Linked DNA regions of Homo sapiens. The protein of the gene in region 5 purifies or fractionates together with the protein of the main gene of each other region. This does not show direct contact. Each region holds a gene or a part of one and is shown on either strand. Other genes may lie near its edges. The genes, in order: TPPP, DPY19L1, HAPLN3, UTP25, CHST5, TOR3A and SEC62.

Region 1 (4,258 bases), on a different chromosome or scaffold from region 5:
GGGGTGGCTCCCACAGGCCTGGGAGGGAACAGACTGCCTGACTCTCCAGAGAGCTCCCCAGTCTCCATCTGCGATGGGTGATCCTAATTTTCTTCAGGAAGTTCTCCTGAGCCCTGCGTGTGGCGCTTTGGCCTTTGTGCCCACGGAAGCCCCCTGCGGCCCCTCCCTCCGGGCCCTGCCCAGCCCGGTGCACGAACCCTGTTTACCGATTCCCAGGCCTAGGGCAGCCACTGCCAGTGTGAGGCTTGCAAATTAGGGTAGGGGGTCAAAAGGAAGCCCCTGTTGACCATTTCTGTGAGCATTCTATGCTCATTTCCACAACGAGCATTTATAACCTCGTATAATCGCTAAAACATTTATTGCAACTTCAGGGAATTCGGGAAGATAGACCAACCGCAGCTGTAAGATTAAAACGCAGCCAGTGACCAGCGGAGCTTCCTCCACGCACACGCGGTCCAATCCCCATGACTTCATGTTTTGTGAAGATGCAAAGCGAGTTCATGCCGGCGCCTTTCTGAATCAGAGATCCGTTTAGAAACCATGAAAGCTGCAGACCCCTCCCGGGAAAACGCACACACCCTCCTGGAGCTCGCCTTCTGCAGCCGCTCCGGGAGCCCGCCCCTCCCCCACAGGCCCTCCGAGGATCACGTGGTGGGGAGGCGCTGGCACCGAGCGGCTGACAGGCGCGAGAGCCCAGTTCAAGGCGGCGGCATCAGGCTGCAGCTGCCTCACTCCCCTCCACTTCCTGCCCCTTCCCGGCCTTGGTCCAGCCCCATCTCCTAGTCCCAGGCCACAGGGAGCTGGGTCACCTCCCAGGGGCAGGGGCTGGCTGGGCGTGGGGGGAGACCTCTCCCCCTGAGAAGTCAGGCGGGGAGGGGTGGCCGGGGTGGGCGGAGGGGCCCAGTCCTCTATCGGTCCCCCAGGGGCCCTGCAAGCAGAAGAGCCAATAAACATGCCAGGTGGATCAGCGGTGACACTGAGAGGGAACGCAACACCCCATCAAAACAGCAGCCCCCCAACCCCCATCAAAACAATAGCCCCCAACCCCCATCAAAACAGCAGCCCCCAAACCCCATCAAAACAGCAGCCCCCAACCCCCATCAAAACAGCAGCCCCCAAATACCCATCAAAACAGCAGCCCCCCAAACCCCATCAAAACAATAGCCCCCAACCCCCATCAAAACAGCAGCCCCCAACCCCCATCAAAACAGCAGCCCCCAAATACCCATCAAAACAGCCCCCAACCCTCATCAAAACAGCAGCCCTCAACCCCCATCAAAACAGCAGCCCTCAACCCCCATCAAAACAGCAGCCCCCTAAACCCCCATCAAAACAGCAGCCCCCCAAACCCCCATCAAGACAACAGCCCCCCCAACCCGTATCAAAACAGCAGCCCCCAACCCCTCATCAAAACAGCAGCCCCCAGACCCCATCAAAACAGCAGCCCCCCAACCCCTATCAAAACAGCAGCCTCCCAACCCCTATCAAAACAGCAGCCCCCAACCCCCTATCAAAACAGCAGCCCCCCTAAGCCCCCATCAAGACAGCAGCCTCCCAACCCCACATCAAAACAGCAGCCCCCCAGACCCCATCAAAACAGCAGCCCCCAACCACCTATCAAAACAGCAGCCCCCAACCCCTATCAAAACAGCAGCCCCCCAACCCCCTATCAAAACAGTAGCCTCCCAACCACCTATCAAAACAGCAGCCTCCCAACCCCCTATCAAAACAGCAGCCCCCAAACCCCTATCAAAACTGCAGCTCCCAACCCCCTATCAAAACAGCAGTCCCCCAACCCTATCAAAACAGCAGCCCTCCAACCCCCTATCAAAACAGCAGCCCCCCAAACCCCTATCAAAACAGCAGCCCCCAACCCCGTATCAAAATAGCAGCCTCCCAACCCCTATCAAAACAGCAGCCCCCCAAACCCCCATCAAGACAACAGCCCCCCCAAAACCCTTATCAAAACAGCAGCCCCGCCACTGCCCGGGAGGGACAGGCTTCTCACCTCCCTCGGCTCCGTTTACGTAACCGAAACCGCAGAATAAAGGGCTCCTCAGATCTTCGGGCGCTGCTCCCAGGGGTGCGGGAAGGTGTCCCGGCAGCGCCTCTCCATCGCCACAGGCCCGCGGACAGTAGCCAAGACCCGGGGCAGCTGGAGGCTCTGCGGGGGGCGGTCTGACAGCCCCACCTGCCAGGACGCGGTGGTGTCAGGACCCTGAGATGGGCCGTTTCTGTGGCCAGGGATCTCTCAAAACCTGCTGCGGGCAGTGACTTCATTCCAGCCCTCCACGCCCTAATTTCCCACGCCTCACACCGGCGGCCCCCTAGGCCTGGGAATAGGGAAACGGTTCGAGTCCCGAGCTGGGGAGGGTCTGGAGGGAAGGGCTGCAGGGGCGTCCGTGGCCGCGAAGAAAGGCCAAAGCGCCAGGCACAGGGCCCGGAGACGGTGACAGACCTGTCCCTGGCGCGGCCGACGGTGACCCCCGCTCGCGGCCTTTGCAAAGCCTCCCCGTCGCGTCCTCGCACCGAGCCCGCAGCGCCGAACTCCGGGCATCCCAATCCGGGGGCTCAGGGACGCGCGGGGCGGTCCGGGAAGGGGGCTCGGGGGAGCGCGGGGGGCAGGGGCTGCGGCGCAGGTGGCTGCTGGGGCTGACGGGCCCAGTCTCCGCCCCCGGGTGCCCCCCGCGCCGCGCCCGCGGGACCGAGCCCCGCGCCCGCTTACCTTGGAGACGCAGCGACTGCAGCGGAGGCGCCTCCGCGACTCGGCCGCGCGCGACCCGGTGCTCAGCGGAGCTCTCCAGCCGCCGCCCCGCGCCCGCCCGTCCCGCCCAGCACCGCCCAGCCCCGCCCAGCCCGGTCCCGGGCCCGCCCCCGGCCCCCAGCGTCCGGCGCCCGCCCAGCGTCCCGCCCCGCGCGCTCATTGGCAGCCCCGCCCCCGCCGCCCCACCCGGCCCGGGGACGCGCGGGCGCACCGAGACCTCTGCCTTACAAGGCCGACTCTGCTCAGGCCCCGCGGACCGCCGGGTATCCGCTCAGCGCAGGGCGCGGCCGACCCGCGGGTCGTGGGAACCGCTGGGCAGGGGGCGGCGGGGCCCCTCACCTGGCTCTGGGGCCCCCCGGGGACGACCGGACCCCGATCTCTCCGCCCCGCAGGACGCGCGTTGACGGTGCGGCGGGGGATGGATGAGCGCGGCCGCGGCCTCCTGGGGTGGGGTGGGTTGGCGGCGGGGCCTCGAGGACGGTGCGGGGCGAGCCCCGACCGCGCCCAGTTCTTTAAGGAGCCGCAGACGGTGCAGGGAAGCGGCAGGGCCGGGCTGTGAGGGTGCTCGGACCCCAAGGCGGGGCGCACCCAGGGGACTGGGCTTCCAGGTGGGGGCAGCGCGGCCGGGGATCGACCTGAGCAGGGAGACGGGTCCGTGCCGGGCGCCCAGCGCAGCTGCTCGGGAGTGGGCCGCCCTTCACGCAGGAGTGGAGGAGCGGAGCGCGCACCCCTGACCCCGGCCTCAGCTTCCGTTCTCCCTGCAGGTCGCCCGTATGCAGCGCCACCATCCCGGCCGCTCTTCCAATCTCGCCTTTCTCCGGGCACCTGCCGCCCCTCCCCCGCTCCCCAGACAGGCTTTGCGGAGGGGGCTCATTCCGCCCGGGGCTGCCCGGCCCTCCGCAGGAGTTGGCTCCCCACAAGGTTCCGGGGCCGAGATGACAGGGCGGTTCTGTGGTGCTGGGTGCTGGGACTTGAGGGGCATAGGGGCACCTGCCCTGGAGGAGGCCGAGGCGCAGCCCCCCAGGAGGAAGGGGTGCCTCTGGTGACTTTCAGCTGGACTCTTCCAGCTGGACTCTAGTGCAGCTGAGCTCCTCCCCCAGCCCCGGCTCTGTCCCTGCACCAGGTGTCCAGCAGGCCCTGGAATCCGCAAAGGCAGAAGGGGAAGTTGGGGTGCTGGGTGCTGGGCAGGGGGTGCTGAGGCCTCACAGCCCGGCGGCTTGGCCCCCACCCACCCCACGGTGGTCCCGCGCCCCACACTTCCTCTCCTCTCCTGTGGTTTCTCCTTCCACTCAGTGCTGCCCAGAGATGGGCTTCTGTCTAGTTCTCCTGAGAAATTCCACACTCGCAGCTGGGAAGTCGGGGGACCCCCGAAGCTGTGCGGCGGCCACGCTGCGGCTCCTGCTTCCCTCCTGCTCGGGTGCGGGCTCGGCTGCCTTCTCGTCCCGCGGAGCCCGGAGTGCCTCCCCCTCGGGTAGATCCTACTAACAGCATCAA
Region 2 (3,500 bases), on a different chromosome or scaffold from region 5:
AATGGTTTGCAGGGGAAATGTTATACATATGTTCTTAGTAATTTATTCTGCCATTTTTTATAGATTTTAATTTTTTCAAAATTTATTCACAGTCATAAATGCCACATTTAAAATAATTTTTCCTGTGCTTATTTTCTTAATGAATTTTTAATATTAGTCCTTCACATTCCTTCTTGAAATAAACTCATGGAATGTGACATTTTATTCATGTGTGGAAAGGGAGACTTTGTTGTCATCTGAGTATCAAATGATTGAATACTAAATCATCTTCCAGAACTCCTTGTTACTGTAAAGCTTTCCTAGTCCATTTGATACTTCTTTTTTAGATTCAGGAAAGATTTCTAAGATTTTTTCTTTAAAGAAAGAAAGAAATCTTTAATGATGAGATGATGAAGCTCTGTTTTCCAAGGAAAATAGTTTACCCAGGCCTGGCTGCCAACTGCTACTTTATCAGCCATCTGACTTCATGCTAGTTCTGCCATTGAATCTTGAAGTCATGAACCTGCTGGGCTTCCGCTCTGTTACCTGTGAAATAATTGATTTACACTTGAAGGAGACACCTTCTCGCCTTCACTGAGTGTCTTCCTGAGACATTCCTCTTGCCTTCCAGATGCAGTGTTTGCGGGTGCCATGCCCACGATGGCAAGTGTTAAGCTCTCTGCACTTCGGCCCATTGTGAATCATCCACATTATGAAGACGCAGGCTTGAGGTCAGTGCACAGTCTTGCATCATCAAAACAAACCTCCCATGCAAACAGACAGTGAGTGGAGGACACCAGCAAAGTAATAAGGAATGTTTCAAAAGGATATGATGAACTGAGGCTTATCGAGTCAGGGAGCAGAAAGCTGAAATAAGACCGCTAAGCTCTAAACAAATCCGTTAAAGCTTCACAGGGCAGGAAAGTGACAACTTTGGGGGCTCTCTTCTCTACCAGGCATATAAACGAAGTCATACTATAGCACTTTCCCACAGGTTAACAGGGCTCTAAAATGTCCAAGTCCTTTTCATCCTGTAACTCCCTGGGGAGTTTAGCTTAGAGTGTTTATTAAGGTTTTCTCATAGGTGATTTTTCTTGAGTTTGGAGAAGTCATTTGAAATAGAATCCCATTCAAAGAGGAGTTTATTCTGGTTTTCACCAGTATAGCCTGTTAGAATGATCTTGGGTGTTTTATGTTTTTTTAGATTTTTTTGAGACTTTAAAAAATAATTTAGAGATGTGTTGTCCAAATTTTTTTTTAAAAATTTAATTTTTCTTGCAGTTTCTAAGGCAGGTGAAGCTATTCATTTTCTAAGTGATTAGGTGAATCTTATTAGCATCTTCTTTTTCATAACAATGGCATGTACATTCACAAATAAGCTTTTTCATTAAAAAATCAATCTCATCAAGCTAATTTCCAGACCAATTTTGTTAAATAAGTTTAGTTTTTCTTAAATCTAGAAATAAAATGAAGAACCATTTAATGTGAATTATTGTTGATGTCTAAGTTGGGACTGTTGCAGCTTCACAGTAGTCCTATAGTTGTGTTTGTTGTAGTTCATCCCTGTTCACACACAGGGTACCTTACTCTTACATGTGATAGCGAAGTGAAGAATTTAAGACAAATAAATAAGTGAACAAACACAAAGAGACCAAGTTTGGGAATGTAGGGGTGTGTTAAAGGTCACCCTCTTCTCCACAACTTGTCCTCCTCCTGCCTTCTGCTTTTGACCTCACTGATGCCCCTTAGCGGGAACTTCCATGGGGAATTTCCTCCTGACTGGATTCTTCTTCATCGTCTTCTAGTCTAATTCAGTGCTTTCTTCCAAATGTGTTATTGTATCGTTTTAGTCTTGAAAATTTTATGCCCAATTATTTTTCTTTAAAGAGCCAGAACAAAAATAGTATACTCAATGTATAGTCGGAAAGCAGCCGAAGAAGTGAAGCGAGAACTGATAAAGTTAAAAGTGAACTATTACATTCTAGAAGAGTCATGGTGTGTAAGAAGATCCAAGTGAGTATCAACACAGTTAACATTTTATAATCATAAGACATGAAGGTTAATTCAAGCACATGGCACATGCTTTGCTGGTGGCGGGGGTGTGTATATAACATAAAGTATACATGGAAAAACTTCTTCTTTTTTTTTTAAACAGGCTCTCACTCTGTTGCCCAGGCTGGAGTGCACTGGCATGATCTGGGCTCACTGCAAGCTCCACTTAATTTTTGTATTTTTAGTGGAGATGGGGTTTTGCTGTGTTGACCAGGCTGGTCTCAAACTCCTGGCCTCAAGTGCTACTCCTGCCTTGGCCTCCCAAAGTGCTGGGAGTACAGGCGTGAGTCACCACGCCTGGCCTGAAAAAACTTTTTAGATAATGATTTGGAGACTTTCTTTTATAGTCTTTATAAATATCTTTTTTTTTTAAATAATGATTTGTATGTGTATACTACCTTAAAGAGATTTTATTGGCACTAGTTGATAATCTCCCAAATTGTTCATATTTGCCTTTGATGTTTTAAAAGAAACTTTTATTTAAAGTTGGATGTATTTTCTTTCAAAAGACTTCCAGGGTCTGAAACCAAGTAATGGGGAGTCTCTTTTGGTGAAGTCAGGCAGCTGAGCACCAGGGGTCACATTATCCTTACTGGGTCTCTGTGCTACACCATGTCCTGTCGATGGATGGGATACCCTGTCAGCAAAAACTCAGAATGAAATTTTTCTTTCCTGGTGTTTCACATCTTACTTGAATGGGAAAATGACTCTACTGTGACCCACTTTCTCTTGGGTTTATAGTTTTTAAGTTTCTATTTCCACAGAGATGTTTACTAAGCTGAGTATAGCTCCAAGTGACAGTAAGATCTTCAAAGCAGATGTGAATCTAAAGCTATCTAGAAATGTGGCACGTAAGTGACTGGACACCAGGTGACAGTAGCCTGCTTTTAAAGTACCAAAACATTCACTTCATGAAGAGCACAGTACAGGAACAATTTTATCAGAAATAAACACTATTTTATGGAATAATAATATTTTTTAAATTCTTACTATTCTGTAACTAAACAAAAGCGTTCAAGAGATTGCTATATTTGTGGCTTGATCACACTTTCCCACCATATATTTCAATGACACATATGGTATTAAGACAACATTGTTAAATACTGAGTCGTGAGTGAAAAATAGTTCTGTGACATAGTATCTACAGCTTTGCTCACAAGGAAACTAAAATAATTGTTGATTATAGAATGATTCTCCTATGAACGTGTGCTACGTGGTTTGAATTCAGTCAGGATTTATAGAAAATGTTATTTTGTAATAATTCAGAAAATGTTTTAAGCGTTTGTGAATATGTATATGAAATTCACATACTCACCTTTAACATTGTTATATAAATTTAGGACAGAAAAGTTCTAAGCATCTCATGACGATCTTAGGAAATTATATGAAATGAATGATAGGCTGACATTTGCAATAGGAAGAACTCAGTTCTTAGCATAGCTTTCTACCAGAATGGGGATCTTCTTTAT
Region 3 (3,500 bases), on a different chromosome or scaffold from region 5:
GAGTGGAAGCAGCAAGGCCCCCTGGGACCTATGCTCAGAGCAGGCATGATGGATAACAGTCACTTCCAAGGCATTCAGTTGGTCAAGCAAGTGGCAAGGCCAGCACAGATTCAAGGGGGTGGGGGAATAACTGTCATCTCTTGATGGAAGGAGATGCAAAGTCACATTGCAGAGCATGTGGATACAGGGAGGGGTGGAGCATGGTGGCCATTTTTGCAATCTGAGCCTGTAGGAGCCGTGGATGAGGGTGTGCGGTGGCCCTTGCAGGGGTACAGATGTGCTTCAGCAGGTCTCATCTGCACCCTGTCTCTCCCCCAAGACCTCCTTAATGGAGTGAAGCTGGTGGTGGAGACACCCGAGGAGACCCTGTTCACCTACCAAGGGGCCAGTGTGATCCTGCCCTGCCGCTACCGCTACGAGCCGGCCCTGGTCTCCCCGCGGCGTGTGCGTGTCAAATGGTGGAAGCTGTCGGAGAACGGGGCCCCAGAGAAGGACGTGCTGGTGGCCATCGGGCTGAGGCACCGCTCCTTTGGGGACTACCAAGGCCGCGTGCACCTGCGGCAGGACAAAGAGCATGACGTCTCGCTGGAGATCCAGGATCTGCGGCTGGAGGACTATGGGCGTTACCGCTGTGAGGTCATTGACGGGCTGGAGGATGAAAGCGGTCTGGTGGAGCTGGAGCTGCGGGGTGAGATGCTAACGGGGACTGGGTGACACTGGGACCTGAGAGCAGAGGGGAGAGGACCAGAGAAAACATCCAGACCTCTGTGCTTTAGACATTTAAAAGTACTTAATTCTCAAAACAACCCACATGGAAGCTACTGTTGTGACCCCCATTTTACAGGTGAGAAAACTGAGGCACAGAGAGGTCAAGTAACTTACCTAAGGTCACACAGCTTGTAAACGACAGAGCTGGGGTCTGAACCCAAGCACCCAGCCTCTAGAATCTGTTCCCCTCTACCCGCTGTAATTCACATCTCATTCAGAGAGAGGAAAACCAGAGCTGGTCCCACAGCTTATTAGAGACAGAGCTGAGATTTAAGCAAGGTTAGCGGGTAACACAAGCGAATGAGGCAGCCCACTGTGAGACGATGGGAGTGGTGGGGACTGGGCACACTCCTGAGCCCTTGTCCTGTGCCCAGGGAGCTCCCACACTACTCAGGCCCAGCTGATGATGCCACGCCAGAATGCAGACCCCACTGCCAAATTTTCTGGCTTGACAAGATAAGCTTATATTTTTATGTGAGATCTCCTGATTTTTATGTAAAAACCTCCTTTTTAAAAACAAAACAAAACAAAAAACAAACAAAAAGCCCCCCCAAAACCAAAAACAAAAACCCAGTGCTGTCCAAACCAGCCACACCCTGCAAGCCGGATCTTGTATGTGGGGTCCCTGTTTGATCTTTAATTTGTATTTACCTTCTCTGTCTCTAGGATGGGGCTGTGTGTCCTCACATCTCTCCCACATGTTAGGGAGGCAGTTCGGGGATAGAGGAAGGTGACCTGACTTTAGCCCCAGCCCGTCCCAGCTATGACATGTGGGTAAATGCCTCATCCCCCTTAGAGCCCTGGGCCTCTCAGGTGTAAAATGGGGTATCACAATCTTTCCTCCTTTACCTCCCTCAGAGGCAATGAGGATAAGATGTATGTCCTTAAAATGCGTTCTCTGTCTTTGCCACCAGTGTCCACATGGCTTACATGGTGGCTCAGAGGGGCCGCATTCCTCATTCTTGAAGTTGGGGTGGCAGTGGAGTTGGGGAGAACCTGCAAGAGTCATTGGTCTGGGGTCTGCAGGGGCAGCCTAGAGAAACAGGGAGCCCTCACCCCATTCCCGGGGCTTCAAGGGCTAGGAATTTGGGGTGGAACCAGGCATGAAATAGTCCCCCTGCAAACACACGTAGAGGCTGCAAGCTGACTGTCAGGGCCCATGGGCTTCTCTGCCGCCCAACCTGGCTTTGCCCAGGTGCCTGGCTTCCGGCCCTGGTGAGATCGGAGGTTTGGGGCTCAGGCTGTTCCTGGGTCCTTGGCCACACGGAGGAGATTCCAAAGTGTCCTTCCCAGACCCCTAGGGTCACCTCCACTCCCTAAGGTTTCATTGACTTGGTAGAGACTACATCTCAGAAGTTTAAAAACTTTTTATTAGAGTAAAATTTCAAACACGAACATATCTTTTCAGGGCCTGTGGCCTCTATCAGACCCTGACCACAAGGAGAGAAACCGCCTGCCCCAGACCTCCCTGCCCTTGAGCCTCCTTTATGGAAGGCCCTTCCCCAACCCTCTCCCCACGGCCTCTAGGGCCTCTCCTTCTCCTGAAAATCATCTGCCACACGTGGAAAGTTCCTTGCATTTTCCTAGGAAATTTCCACATTCATAATAACGTAGACGATCGGGTCCCAGCTAACGAGTGGGGAGCTGGGAGTCAAACCTGGCCCCTAGAGCCCAAAGCCCGGGCCTGTCTGGAGAAGATGGCACAGCCTCACTGGGGGTCTGGCGACAGCCTTGCGGATTAGGTTGGGGACATTGTTGGGGACATTAATGGACTAATTAATTACCTTAACTCATGGATGTTTTCTGAGTACTGCTGTGAACCAGCTGAGTCCCAGGAGAGAGGCGGCAACGGACAGGAGGTCAGAGGTTTGCTGAGTTTTTCTGAGGGATGGTGTATGTGTGTGTGTTGCAGGCAGCACATGTCCCAGTGAAGGTGGGAGGAGAGCGGGGTGTCCAGCCAGCTGGGCCCCTGGCCACCCCCTAAGCTCCTCTTTCCTTCCCCTGCAGGTGTGGTCTTTCCTTACCAGTCCCCCAACGGGCGCTACCAGTTCAACTTCCACGAGGGCCAGCAGGTCTGTGCAGAGCAGGCTGCGGTGGTGGCCTCCTTTGAGCAGCTCTTCCGGGCCTGGGAGGAGGGCCTGGACTGGTGCAACGCGGGCTGGCTGCAGGATGCCACGGTGCAGTACCCCATCATGTTGCCCCGGCAGCCCTGCGGTGGCCCGGGCCTGGCACCTGGCGTGCGAAGCTACGGCCCCCGCCACCGCCGCCTGCACCGCTATGATGTATTCTGCTTCGCTACTGCCCTCAAGGGTGAGTGGAATAGCCAAGCGCGGGCCTGTGGGTTTGGTGGCCACCTGGGACCTGTGAGAGGGCAGCTTCTGGGGAGCTCTGGCCCCCTCTGCTGGCTCTGCTGGTACTGCCACCTGGAGGCCAAGAGCACCAGCCACCCTAGAAGCAGCATCTGGTTGAGTTTTGAGTGCTTTGCTGCTGCTGCGTTATGCAGGGCATAAATCATTGGTTTCTTCATTCATCAAATGTTTACTGAGTGCCTACCATATGCTGGGGCCTAGACTAGGCTCTCGGGAATCACAGACGAATAAAACACAGCCTGTCTTCACAAAGCAGCTCATTTCGTAGGAAGATGAACAAGTAAAAACAGAAACTGGTTCAGTGTCATATGCCAAGCCCTTGGAAAAGTGTCTGACACATAGTAGGTGTTCAGTAAATGACCG
Region 4 (3,500 bases), on a different chromosome or scaffold from region 5:
TAGTCAAACTCCCTTGTGTAATAGCGGGGGAAACCAAAGCCCCGACGCTTACTGTCACCGCTGGAACAATAACCCAGTCCTCTTAAATCTTGGTCCACCATCTCTGCAACTGTACCAAGCTGAGTCCACTGCACTCCTTGGGGCTTGAACATCAGGGTTATAAGGTTGTTTCCATTTAGAATTACATAGAAGAATAAGAGGCAGATTATCTATGAAACATATTATAATTTGGTGAATTACGTGATTTAACTGGGGTTATGTCCATTGTTTACAATAGGAAATTAGAAATTAACCATTTTTTAAGCATCTTCGGTTTTTATTCTCAACAGTAACTTTAAATATTTTTGAATATGCTTAGAAAGCTGAGTCCTGTTTTTCCCATTAATTGTGGTCATTTTTTTTTAGAAATGCTTTATTGTCATTTCTGAAACACTGTATAGAGAATGCACTAGAAATGTAATGATGTGTTAATCCTTTTTCTTACCCGCTTTATTTCTTCTCTACTTGTTCCATTTATTTATTCGACATGTATTTATTCACTGTGTCTTTAGGATAAAAATATTGCACTAATTCTGTGGGAGACACAGAAATCTTTCCCTCAAAGAGCTCATGTGTTTATGTCCTTGAGTTTTTACTGGTAGACGTATCTGTTAGAGGCATTGGCTTATTGTAAAAGGTATTTCCAAATTCTGCTTGAGAAATGTCTCACGTGGACTGATGGGTCTGAAGTCCGCAGGTCATGGTGCTGGGGTTATGAAAGGTGCTCAGTTTCTGGTGTTGAGCCAAGCCCTGCGCAAAGCGGGTAACATAGGTATGTTTCTTGGCTGGGGGCCACTGCTCTACATGGAGCTTTTTAGCTCCACTTCCTCAGCAGTTTCACCTCAAGATCCTGTTCCTTCCTCTTACCCCACTAAGGCTGCTGTTGCTGTCTGCACAGGTACTGATAGTGGTGCCATTCCGGGAAGCTGCTTTGCGGGTGGTGCAGCTCTTCATCAGCCTCCTCGAGGGTGACAGCAAGAAGAAAATCATTGTGAGCAACAAAAAGAGGTTTCAGGGAGAATATGGATCAGATCCCGAGGAGAGACCACCCAACTTGAAGAGGCCTGAGGATTATGAAGCCGTATTTGTGGGCAATATTGATGACCACTTCAGGATTGGTAATTCTTCCTTATCAACTTTGAGACCTAAAGTGTGAAGGTCTACATAGCTGGAGACCAGAAGCTGGAATTAGATATTTTCCCAGTGGATCACTCACTGTGCCTCTTTAACAGAACCAGTGTGCCTTTGAGACATGTTGTTTGCCATGGGAGAGTCTTGCCTTGGCTAATGGGGTGGACATTAGGCCAGTGGAGTCGGGAGGATCTCTGAGGCCATATATGAAAGGCACATGTACATTTATAACAGAAATTTATAGCAAGTTTATAACAGAAGTGTGAAAGCACACCCATAGCTGGTAGCAGATAGATGCTACAAGGGGTTCTCTAGGATGTTGGAAGTGATGGGGCTGATGGGGTCATTCTGGGGAGGCTGAATAAAATGACTGTCTCTACATAAAGGTGGACTTTCTCCTGTGTGCTACATAGATGCCTACCCTGAATAATCTCCACACATGACTTCCACCCAAATTTTCACATTTTTGCTTGTCTCTCATTCAGCTCCCATTGACTTTGGTTGGTTATACCTTTTATAGAGTAAAGTTCTTGGGGAAATGTTCATTAGTCACATATGCTCATTCACAAATACTTATTGAGTATCTACAGTGTGCCAGGCACTGTTAAGAAGCTGGGAATCTACAGATAAATATAGAAATAAAAGTTATAGTTCCCATTGCTAAGGAAATCCAGCCTACGACAGAGCAGGCAGTGCAGGATATGTGTGCAACGGTTGTTCTCGGAGCATTTAAAGCAAACCCCCTTACCCAAAATGGGGGCAGGGTGGTTAGGGAAGATGTCGTGGTGGAGGTGTCATCTGTACTAGGTGGAAACCTGTGTAGGATTCAGCCAGTTTCAAAGGGAGGTGGCTGAGTGGAGGAAAACATTTCAGACAGGAAACTGCCTGTTGCAGAGGCATCAGGGTGACTAAGCTTGGAATGACCTATGATTCACACAGGCTTCGGTATGGTGGAATGTAAGGCATAAGGAGACAAGAGCTCGTGTTTTGTTTGGAACATATATAGCTGTCCAGGAAGCAGTTGGTATATTGTTCTGGAGCTCAGGAAAAAGATATGGGCTGGAAATACACATTTGTGTGAAGGTGACATTAAAGCCATGATCAGTGAGTCAGTTAACCCAAAGCTTTATGCAGCACGAGAGCAGAGCTGACAAGTGAATCCACCAGTTTGCAGAAGAGTTATTTGGATCTGGAAGGACAGACAAGGGCCAGGTCAGTGATAGAAGCAAAAGTGAGAGTTGAAGTCATGGAAACTATTAGCAAGGAAAAGAGCATTGCAAGGCAGCTGTTAGTACATTCTGTGCCGTTTGTACTTTCCTCATAAGAAGCTCTCAAAAGTGTTCATCCTGTTGGTGACTGAGGACTGTGGGGACCTTAGCAAGAGTCATTTCTCTGGAGTCCTGAGAATCAGAGGCCGGATTGCAGTGGAGTGAGAAGTGAAGGAGAGATTTGAAAGTAGAGAGAATTCTCTGGAGCAGTTTGATAGTGACGGAAAGGAAGAGAAGGTAGAAGCTAGAAGGGACTATAGATGCAAGGGAGAGATTTCTCTTGTTCTTATGTTTTAATAATTAAAGCAGTTGAGCACAGTTACATGCTAAGAGGAACAAAAGAGATGTGGAAGCAATAGAAGTGGTGGACTGCTTTGAGAGGGTGGAAGGTAATGGCTTGGTAGTGACTAATGAATTGGTGTGTACTTGGCTGTTTTGTGTAGGAGTGGCAATACTTCAGAGAAGCATCCGACTCTATGCCCCGTTTTACTCCTCGGATATCCTCATTGCTTCCCCCCTGGGCTTGAGGACCATCATTGGTGGAGAAGGAGAGAAGAAGAGAGATTTTGACTTTCTGTCTTCTATCGAGCTTCTCATCATTGATCAAGCTGACATTTACCTGATGCAGAACTGGGAGCATGTCCTGGTAATGCTGGCCATTCACATTCAGTGGGACAGTATTCATATTTAGAGGGATAAGACACCCAGTGGTTTAAGTCCTAAAGAATTATTTAAGTCCAGATTAGAACTCTTGTTTGGAAGCAAGGACACACACTCCACATTTTCTAATTTGAAAAAGTCTTTTGTCCCCTTTTCTACCCAGAGATTGTCCATAATTAAACTGTCTACAGATTAAAATTCCTGTCAGTCATTTTCAAATCTCCAGAAAAGATTTCTTTCCCTTAAAATTTCTTTCTACTAACTTTAGGGTGGGTGGATGGGTGGATGGGATAGGTTGATGGATGGATGGGTCCTCACCAGGAACATCTTTACCTAACATAATCCCACATGTGGTTTTTGCTTATGCTGTTTTGTTTGGTCTTTGGTGAAGATGGGAATACC
Region 5 (2,539 bases):
CTGGCTTTCCTGGAACACAGGTAACAAACACCTTAGCTTGGGATCAAGATCCTCCCTACCCAGGGAAGGGCTGGGCTGGCCAGGACAACTGTGTTTGGGCCAGAGCAGCAGGGTCCTGCACTCTGCAGGGGGCAATCACAGGTGGGAGAGGCCCACAGCCTGGGATCAGAAGTGCCAGGAGCTTCGGAACAGGAGTCCTGGAGTCCCAGCTTTCTTGCTGTCTCTCTAAGCCTTGAGTCTTTCACCTGAAAAATTGACATCATCATGCCCACCTCAGGGCCCAGAGTTAAGTTATCCAGTGGACTCGAAGCACCTAGCACTTGTGATCATTGAAGTCAGCAAATATGAGTTCCCTTCCTTTCTGGCACTCTGTTGGCAAGGGAGCTCACCATCCATCAGCCAGCACTGGAAAAAGTACAGTTGCACTTGTAGCGGAGGTGGGGGGCTACTCTCCTCATCTTCCAGGTTTTCCAGGAGTGGGTGTGGGGATCCAGAAGGCAGCTCGGGAGTCAGCAGGTGACAGAGGTGTTGGGCATCCTCCGCTCACTCCTGTCCCCGCATTGAGGCGAAGGAGCAGAGGTGAGATCTGCTCACAAGTTAGACCCTGGCTTCTCTCAGTGGGCAGTGTGGACAGGGGAAGGGGGCAGGCAAGGAGCAAAGGATGCAGGAGCAAGGAGAAAACTTCCAGGCTCCTCCCTTCCAAAGTCACCCAGCCTTGAGATCATTGCAGATGCAACAGGTGCAAACAGAAGAACACTTTAGGACCTTGGAATGCGGGAGGCTGGCTCAGTGTTCCTTCCACCCTGTGAGAAATGCGTGACATTCTTAAGGTCCACTAAAGGCTCAGGGTGGTTGGACGCCAGAGGATGGCCTGGGAGATACAGGGATTGGAAGGGTAGGTGGCCTGTGGGTGTCTCCTCTGTGGGGAGACTCACCAGGTGGAGGGGGTTCTTTCTCTCCAGATGTAGCTCAGCACAGGGACAGTAACAGTAACAGGGGCATGTGTGTAAGGAATGCTTCCCCAGGCCCTCCCCTCATAGGTGTTTGCAGCAGCATCCATCACAACAGCTCTAAGAGGTTAAATATTGCAAATCCCATTCTACAGAGGTGCAAATTGAGCCTCAGAGAAGTTAAGTCACTTGCCCCAGGTCTCATAGCTCCCCATTGGCAGTGCTGGGATTTGGAGCCAGCTCTCTCGCTTCCATCCATCAGGAGACCCCGCCAGTTCCCAGCCATTTGGAGAAATGCCCTACTCAGACTTATTCAACCTCAGCAAGCCTGGTGGTGGTGTGACATCCGCCTAAACCGTCATCAAGCCCTTTAGCTCCACAACCCAAAAGGGTCTCTCTACGAGTTATCCTGAAGCAAAAGGCAGGCAGGACAGCTCTGTTCCCACCCTGGGGAGCTTTCTATGTACAGGGCTGTCTCTCTGTAGGGCTCTGATCTCCTCTCCTTCCTGCTTTGCCAGATGTCGAGACATCTCCCATGGATTTGTGATCAGCGTTGCAGCTCTCCCAGCAGCCCTGGACGGTGGTGAGTCCCCTCAGCTGGCCAGGACAGTACTCTGCTCTCACCTCTCTGCTTCTTGGGCTCCATCCCAGCTCCCCATCAACTGATCTTCTTGCAAACCCACAGGGCTCCAGGACACCCTCCTTCTGGAGCCCATGCTGCCTACAGCACTTCACTCCCCACCAGTGATGACAACAGTTGCTGTTCTTTGTCCACTTTATTTACTTGTTTATCTTTAATGACAAAAGTTTTTTTTTTGTTGTTTTTTTTTTTTTTTTTGAAACGGAGTCTCACTCTTCACTCAGGCTGCAGTGCAGTGGCGCAATCTCAGCTCACTGCCACCTCTGCCTCCCAGGTTCACGCCATTCTCCTGCCTCAGCCTCCCGAGTAGCTGGGACTACAGGCGCCCACCATCACGCCTGGCTAATTTTTTGTATTTTTAGTAGAGATGGGGTCTCACTGTGTTAGCCAGGATGGTCTCGATCTCCTGACCTCGTGATCCGCCCGCCTCGGCCTCCCATAATGCTGGGATTACAGGCGTGAGCCACCGCGCCTGGCTGACAAAAGTTTTATACCTGCCTGTTAAAAAAATTATATAATACAGAAGCACACCTTGTAAAAGGTGCAATCCTCAGTTATGGGCATGACTGCGTGTTCCCTTCCCCCATCTTCATTATAATAACCCCCCAATCCCCCCAGATCCTGTGAGCCAGGTACCGGAATTATCCCTCTTTCACACACGGGTAAAGTGATCCGTCACAGAGAGATTTAAGTGATCTTCATAAGCAAGATCATAGGCTAGGAAGTGGCAGAGCCAGGATTCAACCTCGGCGAGCCTGGTGGTGCTCTGACATCCACCGAAGCCCCCATCAAGCCCTTTTAGCTCCACAACCTAAAAGGGTCTCTCTAAGAGGTATCCTGAAGCAAAAGACAGGAGTTCTCTTTGAAACATAGTATTTCTCTCTACAGATAGATAGCCTGTAGGTATGTAAGTAGGTGGGTGGGTGGGTAGGTAGACAGTTTGATGATA
Region 6 (2,213 bases), on a different chromosome or scaffold from region 5:
CAACAAACACATTAATTATCACCAGCTGTGGCTCTCACCAGAGGCATATTGAGTCAGTTACTCACCTATGGTCTCCACAATCTCCGCCTGGAGGTGGGGCTCCAGGTGTTCCATCGTAATTTCTTCCCGGGACCATCCAGCCTTGAGCAACTTTAGGACCACCTCATTGATTATATCGCCCCTGAGATTACTGAAAGAGACAAGAGCTTGTTAACCCATTTGTTTATATTTAGCTTCCATATATGTTATCTCACCGCTGAAACCAATGCATTAGTGCCTGGAAGAATAGAGGCTGAGGGGCGTGGACCTTCTCTCTCTTCCAGGAGACCTTGTCACAACCTCACAACCCAAAGGTCTGCACAGAAAAGACACTGTCCAGTTTTGCCACCCATTCTCTCTTGTTCCCTCTTGACACACACTTACTGAGACTGTGCTAAGTGCAGGGAGCATGAAAAGATGGTAAGATATGGTTCTTCTGTGTGGTCTGAGGGGCATCCGTGTATTCGGTTCCAGGACAGTGTGGCAAGCGCTAATGGAGGAGTGACTGAGTTCTAAGGAGAAGGCTTCAGAGGGAGGATGAGGCTTCTGAGCAAATAAAGACCAAGTAGTGATCATCAGACACTTGGCAAGGAAGGGAAGTGTCTAGGCCTGGGTGCGCCAGAGGAGCACAGGCATGAAAGGCTGGCTAAGGTGAGGAGGGCTTTGTCTGCCATTTGCATGGACTTGAGCTTATGGATCATGGAGAAGGGATGGAAAGGAGGATTTAAGAATTAGTTATGGAGGCACAATTGAAAAACCCTGTAACTGATGGATGTGAGAAGTGAAAGGAGGTCATCAAAGAACAAGCGTTAGCCTCAAGCTGCTTGCTGTCCCCCTTAACAGAGGTGGAACACGGAAAGGTGGAGATGAAAGTTTGGTTTTACACACGTTTGAGTGTTTTTTGCTTGCCTGTGATCTCTCTCAGGTTGTGATATCACTGGGCAACTGGAATTACGGGTCTGAAGCACAGAAAGTGATTTGGGTTAGAGATAGGAGGGAGAAAGGGGATAAGGAGAGAAGATGCAACCGTAGAGCCACCAGCAGGGAAGCTGGGACAGAGGTAGTGGAGACTTGGCCTTCCTCCGCCCTCCACGGCCCAGGCATACTTCTCCCCCACCTCACTGCACTCTCCTCCCCTCCCTGGGCTGCAGCCTCAGCCAGCTCCACCAGCTCCTTAAACCAAGTCCTTGCCCAGCTCCACATCAATGCACTTGCACTTCCCCGTGCTTTCTCTCTTTTTGGAGACAGTCTCATTCTGTCACCCAGATTGGAGTACAGTGGCGTGATTTTGGCTCACTGCAGCCTCCACCTCCCCAGGCTCAGCTGATCCTCTCACCTCAGCCTCCTAAGTAGCTGAGACTGCAGGTACATGCCACCCTACCCAGCTATTTTTTTTTTTCTTGAGACAGAGTTTCACTCTTGTTGCCCAGGCTGGAGTGCAGTGGCGTGATCTCAGCTCACAGCAGCCTCTGCCTCCCGGATTCAAGAGATTCTCCTGCCTCAGCCTCCCAAGTAGCTGGGATTACAGGCACATGCCACAATGCCCAGCTAATTTTTTTAGTAGAGACAGGGTTTCACCATGTTGGCCAGGCTGGTCTCAAACTCCTGACCTCAGCTGATCTGCCCGCCTCCCAAAGTGCTAGGATGACAGGTGTGCCCGGCCCTATTTTTAAAATTTTTTTGTAGAGACGAGGTCTCACTATGTTCCCTAGGCTGGTCTCAAACTCCTAGGCTCAAGTGATTCTCCCACCTCAGTCTCCCAAAGTGTTGGGATGACAGGCATGAGCCACTAGGCCTAGCCTCCCTTGCATTTTCCTCAGGTCCAGCAGAATGAGGGAGGGTAAAGGACAGGGAAGGCAGGTGGCAGGTTAAGGAGTGGGGAACCAGTATCTCCATCTCTTTCCCTCCTTACCCAGCTCTGAAAGCCCCCATGACACCTACCAGTATATTAGCTCACATCTTTGCTCATTTAGCCTGTGACCACACCCTGTTGACTAGGCTCCATGGGGGCTGCTGGGAAATGAGGGGAGCTGTGTGGTTCTCTCCCTCCCTGCCTCCACCATTGCGTAGAGGCTAAGGCTGGGCAGGCGTCCTTCCCTGCCACGCAGGTTAAGCCCGGACAGCCAAGTTGTCTAGCTAGGTGCCTCATTGTAGGGGGAGGTGCTAATGTGTCT
Region 7 (3,500 bases), on a different chromosome or scaffold from region 5:
CCCATGCATTTCCTTTTCTGCATTTAAAAACATTATTCTGGCCAGGCATGGTGGCTCATGCCTGTAATCCCAGCACTTTGGGAGGCCGAGGCAGGTGGATCACCTGATGTCAGGAGTTCAAGATCAGTCTCGCCAACACGGTGAAACCCTGTCTCTACTAAAAAATACAAAAATTAGCTGGGTGTGGTGGCATGTGCCTGTAATCCCAGCTACTTGGGAGGCTGAGGCAGGAGGATCACTTGAACCTCAGGAGGCGGAGGTTGCAGTGAGCTGAGATTTCGCCACTGCACTCCAGCCTGGGTGACAGAGTGAGACTCCATCTCAAACAAACAAACAAACAAAAAAAACCCATTATTCTGAGGAGTCCATGACACAAAAAAGTTAAAGTGATCTAGGAAATCATTGAAAATGAAATAAGACCAAAGTGTGATGATATGACCCCCTTGAAATTTAACTTATCTTTCCCTCTTTCTGTCATGCTAAGAAGAGATCATAGGCCTTTTGGACAATCCTAAAACTATAAACCTCAGAAAATATGTCCTCTCTCAGACTGAAATTTCGTCTGATTGGAAAAGCCATGCAATTAAAGTATCAAAGGATCTCTGTGCTAGGTTGGACAAATGAAATAAACGCATTGGGACCTACTCAGAAACTCACAACTAACTGCTTTAGCCATTGGTTTAAGGGCTTGCCAAAGAAGGCAAATTTAAATTAATCTCCTTGTGTAGTTATCTGCATGACATTCACTAGAACAGGATTTTAGTTATCAAAATGCTTACAACATGCTGTATAAAGTTATGAGATCTTTTCTAATGTTTGGTGATAAGGATCTGACAAAGAGGTCAATTCCTCATTGGAATTTTTGTTCCCTAGGAATTTCTCCTTGGTATTGGTCTTGATTCCAATAAGAAACAGATGGTTCTTTACATGAAGATATTATGAGGAGATAAGTATAGGTATAGGCTACCCAAAGAGGAAGCACAGTAGCTTCTGCAACTCCAGGCTAGTAGCAGCAGAACTGACATCATCCTTGGCCAGAAAGGAAGAGTGCAGGGACTGGCAACCTGGAAAGCAGGGAAGGAGTTTGGGAGAAGTGACCTTTGGCTGCTAAGGCAGCCCCCCAACCCCAGGAGAAGAGCCGAGAATAGGCACCCTACCATCCTCTGATCTCTGGCCAGGACACTCCTTGGCCAAACCCACTCAGAAGCCAGGAGGCATAGGAGCCCACTGCTGTGGTCCATTCGGGTCAGCTTTGTGGGCAAGAGCAGAGTGGAGCTGGAGGGGAAAACAAGAGATATCCAGCACATGTAGCAATTTGCTGCCGTAGCACTTAACACACTATTTAATGGTGCAAGAGAATTGTATTTTTATTCATGGTTGTGCCTAGTAAAATTCTGGTACATGGTAAGTGCTCAGTATTACTGAGTGAATGAGCAAAGACCTGAAATACTGTGGAAACAGTAAAAGCAAATTACCACACAATTAGGAGGAATTATTTTCAGACATAGGATATTTAAAACATCACTCAAATACTGGAGCATGATTCAGCAATAAATTCTATTCCATAAACCAGGTAGATAAATGTCACAGCTTTAAAATATAGTTAAGTACAGTTGATCCTCGTTATTCATGGATTCCGTATTTGTGAATTTGCCTAACCTAAAATTTTGTGGTACAGCAAAAAACTTGCTGTACACATATTCTGAGCTGAGGTTGAACAAGGCCATGTTCCAGCTTTCATACTATAAACGTGTCCTTTTTACGCTAATGCCATGGTTTTTGCATTTCTGTTCTTTTTTTGATTTCACTGTTTAAAATGGCCCCCAAGCATAGTGCTAAGGGCAAAAAGCTGTTCCTAAGGGTAAAAAGGCTGTTGTGTGCCTTATGAAGCTTATGTGTCAGATAAGCTTCATTCAGGCATGAGTTACAGTGTTGTTGGTCATGACTTCAATGTTAATGAATCGATTATATTAAATAAGGTGTCTTTACAACAGAAATTTACATGTTGACTGCTTGATGAAAATGTGACCAGTGGCTTGCAGAAATCTAGCCTTGTATTTCCCCTAGGTTCTATATTTGCTAATTCAGTGTTCGCAGTGACTTTATAGAACGTAACTACCTTGAATAATGAGAATCAACCATACTTGCTGTTTTCCAGTTCCTAATAGATTTAAAAAAAAAATTCAATTTACAAAAGACACAAGATGACTTTTCTTGTCAGCAGCTAACTGATCCTCATGATGTAAAACCAGAAAGAGGGGGGAAACACCAAAATTCATCACCACTGCATAATTTCAATGTGATATATTAAAATTTATTACTTCCTGAATAGTATTCAACTAAATCTATATTATTTCAATTAAAGTTACCTAGGCCATATGGTTTGAAAATTGAAAAATCCAGTAAGAGGGAAAAGGAAAAATACCTTATTTAATACATTGACTTTAAGAACAATCACATATGCATTATTCTTACTATCTGAACTTAGCCTCTGGTAAATTCAATCCTGCTTAGTTAGGCCAATTGATACCCTCTACAATAAGCCCTACATGATCAAAAAGCTTCATGCTTTCTACTTACAGCAGCATAGCAAATCTGAAGTTCTTAAAAAAAAATCGCCATTCTATTAACAATTATAAACGATTTTCCATGCTCTGGTACAAGAATATTTAATGTTAGCCAAGAAAGATAGCCATCTATTCCACTGAGGATTGTAATAGAGGCAGCCTTTTGATTTTTATATTTGTTTAAAGTACACAACTTGAATAGTAAAATAGAAACTGAGCTGAAATTTCTAATTCACTTTCTAACCATAGTAAGAATGATATTTCCCCCCAGGGATCACCAAATATTTATAAAAATTTGTACTAACATTCTGTAAGAATCCACACACATCAGTAAGAAGCTGACCTTCCTGTTGGCCATGCTCCAAATGTCTTTAAGACTAGACAAATTACATATATTATAAAAAATTTCAGGATGAATATTGAGTGCCTGGGTATTATCACAGTAATAGTAAAGGTTAATGAAATAATTTTTATTTCTGAAAAACACCATGTTTATACCCCAAAATAGGTATCAATGTTACTGGTGATAAACTCAGAAGTGATCATTATATATATGCTTACTGTGGAAATGAAGTAGTAGAGCTCTGCAAATGGGACGGGAAAATACCCAGGCACTTCATCAATGAACATTTATTTGCTAAAAAGAAACTATTAAAGTGATTGCAGCCTTGACATAGTTGCATTAACATCAAATAGCCACATTTATGTCCACTTACAGGGACTACTATAAAGAAGCAATCAAGCCAAGTTTAATAAAATGTGTCGATACAGAAAACATATTTTTCACAATTAGAAAAATTTAACATCTTTAATTCAAACACTTAGATGAGAAACAGCCTAAAGCAAAGACTGACATACACTACCTATTTCAACCACAAAGCAAGATGCTCTCACTGTGACTGAAGAAAAATCATTTAATATTCATTATTAGTT

Evidence for each region.
Region 1: the proteins of CHST5 (region 5) and TPPP purify together in Homo sapiens (affinity purification with mass spectrometry; one large-scale study listed by BioGRID and IntAct). This does not show direct contact.
Region 2: the proteins of CHST5 (region 5) and DPY19L1 purify together in Homo sapiens (affinity purification with mass spectrometry; one large-scale study listed by BioGRID and IntAct). This does not show direct contact.
Region 3: the proteins of CHST5 (region 5) and HAPLN3 purify together in Homo sapiens (affinity purification with mass spectrometry; one large-scale study listed by BioGRID and IntAct). This does not show direct contact.
Region 4: the proteins of CHST5 (region 5) and UTP25 purify together in Homo sapiens (affinity purification with mass spectrometry; one large-scale study listed by BioGRID and IntAct). This does not show direct contact.
Region 6: the proteins of CHST5 (region 5) and TOR3A purify together in Homo sapiens (affinity purification with mass spectrometry; one large-scale study listed by BioGRID and IntAct). This does not show direct contact.
Region 7: the proteins of CHST5 (region 5) and SEC62 purify together in Homo sapiens (affinity purification with mass spectrometry; one large-scale study listed by BioGRID and IntAct). This does not show direct contact.

What each region holds. Positions count from the first base shown.
Region 1 is NC_000005.10:690,553-694,810, forward strand, and holds the start of TPPP (tubulin polymerization-promoting protein), read right to left. Parts: upstream 2,801-4,258; 5' UTR 2,726-2,800; intron 2,192-2,725; exon of another isoform or gene 2,009-2,191; intron 1-2,008.
Region 2 is NC_000007.14:34,936,486-34,939,985, reverse strand, and holds part of DPY19L1 (protein C-mannosyl-transferase DPY19L1), read left to right. Parts: intron 1-610; coding exon 611-710; intron 711-1,866; coding exon 1,867-1,992; intron 1,993-3,500. UniProt on the Homo sapiens protein: C-mannosyltransferase that mediates the C-mannosylation tryptophan residues on target proteins.
Region 3 is NC_000015.10:88,878,545-88,882,044, reverse strand, and holds part of HAPLN3 (hyaluronan and proteoglycan link protein 3 isoform 2 precursor), read left to right. Parts: intron 1-319; coding exon 320-688; intron 689-1,434; coding exon of another isoform or gene 1,435-1,502; exon of another isoform or gene 1,503-2,316; intron 2,317-2,576; coding exon of another isoform or gene 2,577-2,634; intron 2,635-2,775; coding exon 2,776-3,078; intron 3,079-3,500. UniProt on the Homo sapiens protein: May function in hyaluronic acid binding.
Region 4 is NC_000001.11:209,837,972-209,841,471, forward strand, and holds part of UTP25 (U3 small nucleolar RNA-associated protein 25 homolog), read left to right. Parts: intron 1-937; coding exon 938-1,157; intron 1,158-2,881; coding exon 2,882-3,084; intron 3,085-3,500. UniProt on the Homo sapiens protein: Component of the ribosomal small subunit processome for the biogenesis of ribosomes, functions in pre-ribosomal RNA (pre-rRNA) processing. Essential for embryonic development in part through the regulation of p53 pathway.
Region 5 is NC_000016.10:75,530,570-75,533,108, reverse strand, and holds part of CHST5 (carbohydrate sulfotransferase 5), read left to right. Parts: 5' UTR 1-20; intron 21-1,468; 5' UTR 1,469-2,539. UniProt on the Homo sapiens protein: Sulfotransferase that utilizes 3'-phospho-5'-adenylyl sulfate (PAPS) as sulfonate donor to catalyze the transfer of sulfate to position 6 of non-reducing N-acetylglucosamine (GlcNAc) residues and O-linked sugars of mucin-type acceptors.
Region 6 is NC_000001.11:179,092,070-179,094,282, reverse strand, and holds part of TOR3A (torsin-3A precursor), read right to left. Parts: intron 191-2,213; coding exon 66-190; intron 1-65.
Region 7 is NC_000003.12:169,994,307-169,997,806, reverse strand, and holds part of SEC62 (translocation protein SEC62), read right to left. Parts: 3' UTR 1-3,500. UniProt on the Homo sapiens protein: Mediates post-translational transport of precursor polypeptides across endoplasmic reticulum (ER). Proposed to act as a targeting receptor for small presecretory proteins containing short and apolar signal peptides.